Homo sapiens: one gene and its partner. The protein of the gene in region 2 purifies or fractionates together with the protein of the main gene of each other region. This does not show direct contact. Each region holds a gene or a part of one and is shown on either strand. Other genes may lie near its edges.

The links.
Region 1: the proteins of CHAF1A (region 2) and CBX1 purify together in Homo sapiens (affinity purification with mass spectrometry; 4 studies listed by BioGRID and IntAct, with this or other methods). This does not show direct contact.

Annotation. Positions count from the first base shown.
Region 1 is NC_000017.11:48,091,479-48,094,978, reverse strand, and holds part of CBX1 (chromobox protein homolog 1), read left to right. Parts: intron 1-3,500. UniProt on the Homo sapiens protein: Component of heterochromatin. Recognizes and binds histone H3 tails methylated at 'Lys-9', leading to epigenetic repression. Interaction with lamin B receptor (LBR) can contribute to the association of the heterochromatin with the inner nuclear membrane.
Region 2 is NC_000019.10:4,409,140-4,412,639, forward strand, and holds part of CHAF1A (chromatin assembly factor 1 subunit A), read left to right. Parts: coding exon 1-620; intron 621-1,365; exon of another isoform or gene 1,366-1,384; intron 1,385-3,500. UniProt on the Homo sapiens protein: Acts as a component of the histone chaperone complex chromatin assembly factor 1 (CAF-1), which assembles histone octamers onto DNA during replication and repair.

The DNA.
Region 1 (3,500 bases), on a different chromosome or scaffold from region 2:
GCCTGCCTGGTTCAAGTAATTCTTGTGCCCCACCCTCCCAAGTGGCTGGGATTACAGGCATGCACCACCACACCTGGCTAATTTTTGTATTCTTAGTAGATATGGGGTGTCACCATGTTGGCCAGGCTGGTCTTGAACTCCAGGCGTCAAGTGATCCACCCGCCTCGACTTCCCAAAGTACTGATTTATAGGTGTGAGCCACCAAGCCCAGTCAGGAGCACACTTTTTTTTTTTTTTTTTCCTTTGAGACAGAGTCTTGGTCCGTCACCCAGGCTGGAGTGCAGTGGCGCGATCTCAGCTCACTGCATCCTAACCCCGTTTTCCGGATTCAAGCAATTATCGTGCCTCAGCTTCTTGAGTAGCTGGGACTACAGGTGCGCCATGCTGGCTAATTTTTTTTTTGTATTTTTAGTAGACACGGGGTTTCACCATGTTGCTGGGCTGGTCTCAAACTCCTAGCCTGAAGGATCCACCCACCTCGGCCTCCCAAAGTGCTGAGATTACAGGTGTGGGCCACAGAGCCCAGCCCACACTTTTTTTTTTTGGAGACAGAGTCTTGTCCTGTATCCCAGGCTGGAGTGCAGTGGCACAATCTTGGTTCACTGCAGCCTTCACCTCCCAAGTTCAAGGAATTCTCCTGCTTTAGCCTCCTGACTATCTGGGATTACAGGTATGTGCCACCACACCTGGATGATTTTTGTATTTTTACTAGAGTTGGGGTTTCACCATCTTAGCCAGGCTGATCTTGAACTCCTGACCTCAAGTGATCCACCTGCCTTGGCCTCCCAATGTGCTGGGATTACAAGCATGAGCCACTGCGCCCTACCAAGCCCACACTTCTTTTTTTTTTTTTTTTTTTTTTTTGAGACAGAGTTTCACTCTTGATGCCCAGGCTGGAGTGCAGTGGCACGATCTTGGCGCATCGCAACTTCCGCCTCCCAGGTTGAAGCGATTCTCCTTCCTGAGCCTCTGGAGTAGCTGGGATTACAGGCATGCGCCACCACACCCAGCTCATTTTGTATTTTTAGTAGAGATGGGGTCATGTTGGTCAGGCTGGTCTCGAACTCCTGACCTCAGGTAATTCGCCTGCCTCAGCCTCCCATAGTGCTGGGATTACAGGCGTGAGTCACCATGCCGGGCCTAAGCCCACACTTCTTAATACTTAATAGATGAGCAAAGCTATGGAGGAAACATAGGATATGTTCAGGTTGTGGCCAGGTTATAGTCTTTGACAGGAATGTAGATTTTGTGAGGGAAGAAGGGACATAATTAGTCTGGAATAAGAACCGAAGAATATAAGTGTTACACTGACGACTTTGGCCTTTTGTTTTAAATGGGAGGAAACCTTGTAGAAAATATTTCCTATTCAGTCAGCTCCAGCCCAAACTGGTTTATATGTGTCACATTGCCTTTGTTTACAACAGTTCCTGAAGCCAAATTGCCCTACCAGTACACCTTTTCAAATGCTAGTAAAGCCTGGTTTCAAACTCAGCTTTTCAAAATGTTTACTGATGCCCTCGCCAGTTCTTCCTCCAACCTCCTATAGTGCGTTTATGGCTACTTTTTATTGCTTATACTGCTTTTGGTAATTATGTATGCTTGCCATTTCGGACTCTCACTTGAACTTGCATTGTTTACCTTTTTGTAAATTTTTTTCGAGACCTGTCTTCTGTGTCTTTTTTTTTTTTTTTTAATTTTATTTTTGAGACAGAGTCTCGCTCTATTGCCCAGGCTGGAATGCAGTGTCGTGATCTGGCCTCACTGCAACCTCTGCCTCCTGGGTTCAAGCAGTTCTCCCTGCTTTAGCCTCCCAAGTAGTTGGGTAGCTGGGATTACAGGCGCCTGCCATCATGCCCAACTAATTTGTTTCTTTCTTTTCTTTTCTTTTCTTTTTTTTTTTTTTTTTTTGAGACAGAGTTTTGCTCTTGCTGCCCAGGCTGGAGTGCAATGGTGTGATCTCGGCTCACTGCAACCTCTGCCTCCTGGGTTCAAGCGATTCTCCTGCCTCAGCCTCCCGAGTAGCTGGGATTACAGGCATGCGCCACCACGTCCGGCTCATTTTGTATTTTTAGTAGAGACTGGGTTTCTCCATGTTGGTCAGGCTAGTCTTAAACTCCTGACCTCAGGTGATCTGCCGACCTCGGCCTCCCAAAGTGCTGGGATTACAGGCCTGAGCCACCATGCCCGGCCTAATTAATTAATTAATCTTTTAGAGATAGAGTCTCGCAGCTGGGTGCGGTGGCTCACGCCTGCAATCTCAGCACTTTGGGAGTCTGAGGTAAGTGGATCACGAGGTCAGGAGTTCGAGACCAGCCTAGCAAAGATGGTGAAACCTTGTCTCTACTAAAAATAGAAAAATTAGCCAGGTGCAGCGGCGGGCACCTGTAATCCCAGTTACTCAGGAGGCTGAGGCAGGAGAATCCCTTGAACCCGGGAGGTGGAGGTTGTGAGCCAAGATAGCTGCACTCTAGCCTGGGCAACAGAGCAAGACTCCCTCTCAAAAAAAAAAAGAGAGAGAGAGAGAGATGGAGTCTTGCTGTGTTGCCCAGGCTGGTCTGAAACTCATGGCCTTAACCACTCCACAACCCTTGCCTTGGCCTCCTAAACTGCTGGGATTACAGGTGTGAGCCACAGTGCCTCGCTAATTTTATTTTTTTTTTAATAGATAGTATTAAAAGGTAGAAGATCTGGTCGGGCATGGTGGCTCAGTCCTGTAATCCCAGCACTTTGGGAGGGCGAGGCGGGCAGATTACCCGAGGTCAGGAGTTCGAGACCAGCCTGACCAACATGGAGAAACCCCATCTCTACTAAAAATACAAAAGTAGCTGGGCATGGTGGCGCATGCCTGTAATCCCAGCCACTCGGGAGGTTGAGGCAGGAGAATCACTTGAACCTGGGAGGCGAAGGTTGTGGTGAGTCAAGATGGCACCATTGTATTCCAGCCTGGGTGACAAGAGTGAAACTGCATCTCAAAAAAAAAAAAAAAAAAAAAAAAGATCTGGCTGGGCATGGTGGCTCACGCCTGTAACCTGAGTACTTTGAGTGGTCGAGGTGAGTGGATCACCTGAGGTCAGGAGTTCGAGACCAGCCTGGCCAACATGGTGAAACCCCCTCTCTACTAAAAATACAAAAATTAGGCCTGGTGTGGTGGCTCACGCCTGTAATGCCAGCACTTTGGGAGGCTGAGGCTGGTGGATCACCTGAGGTCAGGAGTTTGAGACCAGCCTGGCCAACATGGTAAAACCCCGTCTCTACTAAAAATTCAAAAAATTAGCTGGGCATGGTGGCGCGTGCTTGTAATTCCAGCTATTTGGTGGGGCTGAGACAGGAGAAGCACTTGAACCCTGGAGGCAGAAGTTGCGGTGAGCCAAGATCATGCCCCCGCATTCTAGCCTGGGCAAGAGTGAGACTCTGTCTCAAAAAAAAAAAAAAAAAAAAAAAAAGGGCATGGTGGCGGGCACCTGTAATCCCAGCTACTTGGGAGGCTGAGGCAGGAGAAT
Region 2 (3,500 bases):
CAGTCATCATTGATTTGACAGAGGACTCGAATGAGCAGCCAGACAGTCTTGTGGACCACAATAAACTAAATTCTGAAGCCTCTCCCTCCAGGGAGGCAATAAATGGCCAGCGAGAAGACACTGGGGATCAGCAGGGGTTGTTGAAGGCCATTCAGAACGACAAGTTGGCATTTCCTGGAGAGACCCTTTCAGACATTCCTTGCAAAACAGAGGAGGAGGGTGTTGGCTGTGGAGGTGCAGGGAGGAGAGGCGACTCCCAGGAATGTTCGCCACGGAGCTGCCCGGAGCTGACGAGTGGCCCGAGAATGTGCCCCAGAAAGGAGCAGGACAGTTGGAGTGAAGCTGGGGGCATCCTGTTCAAAGGGAAGGTGCCTATGGTGGTCTTGCAGGACATCTTGGCTGTGAGACCACCGCAAATCAAGTCCCTTCCAGCCACACCCCAAGGCAAGAACATGACCCCTGAGAGTGAGGTGCTGGAATCTTTCCCCGAAGAAGACTCTGTACTCAGCCATTCGTCCCTGAGCTCTCCCTCTTCCACCAGCTCGCCCGAGGGGCCGCCTGCTCCCCCAAAGCAGCACAGCAGTACCAGTCCCTTCCCCACCTCCACGCCCCTCCGCAGAGTGAGTATCTCCCATGGAGTCCCTGCACATCAGTGCTCACGGATCTCAGAGCGCTGTCAGTCTCCACTGGGTCACCCAGGTGTTTTGTGGCAGAGTGAGCGGGGCCACGGGCTGGGTCCTGGGACTCGACGTGGAGTTCTTCCTGGTATCAAAACTCACAGTGTTCAGTTCTGCATTCGTTGTGATGCCCCTGGGACTTAATTCATCAACAGTGTACCTGGTGTACTGTGTGAATAACACCCTGCTGTTTTGCCTTCGTTGTTCACATCTAATCAGTGATAGCTTAGCCGTTTTAGGGAATTAGGATCTGAGCTGGTGCTGTAACCCCTCACTTCAGATTCGAGGTCCAGCTTTCTCTGTGCCCTTCCTGTCTAAGCATAGAAATGTAGGGACGGGGCTGCAAAGACACTGAGCACTGAAGTGGCAGTGAGACGGCAGGAAGCATGACTTGGGGAATTCTGTAGGGTCAGCACAGCCAGCCATCTTAAAAACCTTACCTGGGGCCAGGCACAGTGGCTCATGCCTGTCATCCCAGCACTTTGAGAGGCCGAGGTGGGAGGATCGCTTGAAGATCACTTCAAAACCAACCTGGGCAACATAGACACCATCTCTATGAAAAAAAATTACTTTTTTTTTTTTTTTTGACAGAGTCACTCTATCACCCAGGCTGGAGTTCAGTGGCGTGATCTCGGCTCACTGCAACCTCCACCTCCCAGGTTCAAGCGATTCTCCTGCCTCAGCATCCCTGATAGCTGGGATTACAGGTGCGCACCACCACACTTGGCTAATTTTTATATTTTTAGTAGAGACAGGGTTTCACTATCTTGGCCAGGCTGGTCTTGAATTTCTGACCTCAAGTAATCTGCCCGTCTTGGCCTCCCAAAGTGCTGGAATTATAGGCATGAGCCACTGCACCCAGCCCTGCAAAAAAATTTTTAAAAGTTATCCAGGCATGGTGGCACATGCCTGTAGTCCCAGCCACCTGGGAAACTGAGGCAGGAGGATCACTTGAGCTGAGGAGTTGGAGGCCGCAGCGAGCTATGATCACACTGCCGCGCTCCAGCCTGGGTGACAGAGCGAGACCCCATCTGGAACCATTTTTAAGGACCCCATAAGGGGGACTTTTGCATGGTCTGTCTCTGTTATTGATTTTTTATTAGCACAATGGTGTCCTTAAGGTCTTAGGGACCAAACTGATAAAATCAGTCACGAGTCCCACGGTGTTTAGTGGTGTCTTTTGATTTTATAATTTTTTACTTTTTATCTTAAGTATGTAGAACCAGAAGAGACAGTGCCTTTTTATGTTTTTGGTTTTGTAGCACTTTTGTTTGTTCATGTTGGGTCTTTATATGAGAGTAGTAGATCCTGAGATGGGTCATTTAATCTGTACCTGTAAGCAGGTACAGTAGACCACCTGGACCATAAACCACCAACCTTGTTCGCTTTCGGGATTTTGAGCTCTAAGGAACCATTTATTTATTTATTTTTGAGACAGAGTCTTGCTCTGTCACCCAGGCTGGAGTACAATGGCGCCATCTCAGCTCACTGCAACCTCCGCCTCTTGGGTTCAAGCAATTCTCCTGCCTCACCCTCTCAAGTAGCTGGGATTAGAGGCACCCGCCACCATGCCCAGCTAATTTTTGTATTTTTAGTAGAGACGGGGTTTTGCCATGATGGCCAGACTGATTTCAAACTCCTGACCTCAGGTAATCCACCCGCCTTGGCCTCCCAAGTTTCTGGGATTATAGGCGTGAGCCACTGTGCTTGGCCAAGAGCATTTATTTTTCTGAATGACTTCATTTCTTGTCTTTCACCTGAGAAGATGAAAAAGGAAAAAATGGCTTCCTCTTTAGGTTTATGAAATGTTGTAAAAATGGTGCAAATCTTTTTTTTTTTTTTTTTTTTTGAGACATGGTCTCACCCTGTCGCCCAGGCTGGAGGGCAATGGCATGGTCTCAGCCTACTGCAGCCTCCACCTTCTAGGTTCAAGCGATTTTCCTGCGTCAGCCTCTTGAGTAGCTGGGATTACAGGTGCCCACCACCACGCCTGGCTAATTTTTGTATCTTTTCAGTAGAGACGGGTTTCACCATGTTGGCCAGGCTGGCCTCAAACTTCTGACCTCAGGTGATCCGCTTGCCTCGGCCTCCCAAAGTGCTGGGATTACAGGCATGAGCCACCGCCCCAGTCTTCTACTTTGTTTTATATGTGCTGGTTTGTTATATAGGTAAACTCTTGTCGTGGGGGTTTGTTGTACAGATTATTTTATCACTCAGGTACTAAGCCTAGTACCCTCTTCTAAGTTACTAAATGTGCCAGACTGGCATGTACACATTTCAGCTTCTACCTAATCCACCACTCAATCTCCCAAAATCAGAGTTGAAGTCTCTCCCCATTGGGCATCCTGTAGTGTACATTCGATCACTTGAATTTCTTCCAGGCTGCTGCCGCTTTGCAAAATTTCGTCCTGTGATGTGAGCCATTTAGCAAGAACGGGACACATGGCTGGGCGCGGTGGCTCACACCTGCAATCCCAGCACTTTGGGACGCCGAGGCGGGTGGATCACCTAAGGTCGAGAGTTCAAGACCAGGCTGACCATTATGGAGAAACCCCGTCTCTACTAAAAATACAGAAAATTAGCTGGGTATGGTGACGCTTGCCTGTAATCCCAGCTACGCCGGAGGCTGAGGCGGGAGAACCGCTTGAACCCAGGAGGCAGAGGTTGCGGTGGCCTGAGATCGTGCCATTGCACTCCAGCCTGGGTAACAAGAACAAAACTCCGTCTCAAGAAAAAAAAAAAGGACAGGACACAAGCACATGTTTCCATTAAGTTTGTTTCCATGTCCACAGCTTAGTCTGCAAACTGGGAAGTCCCCTCGTT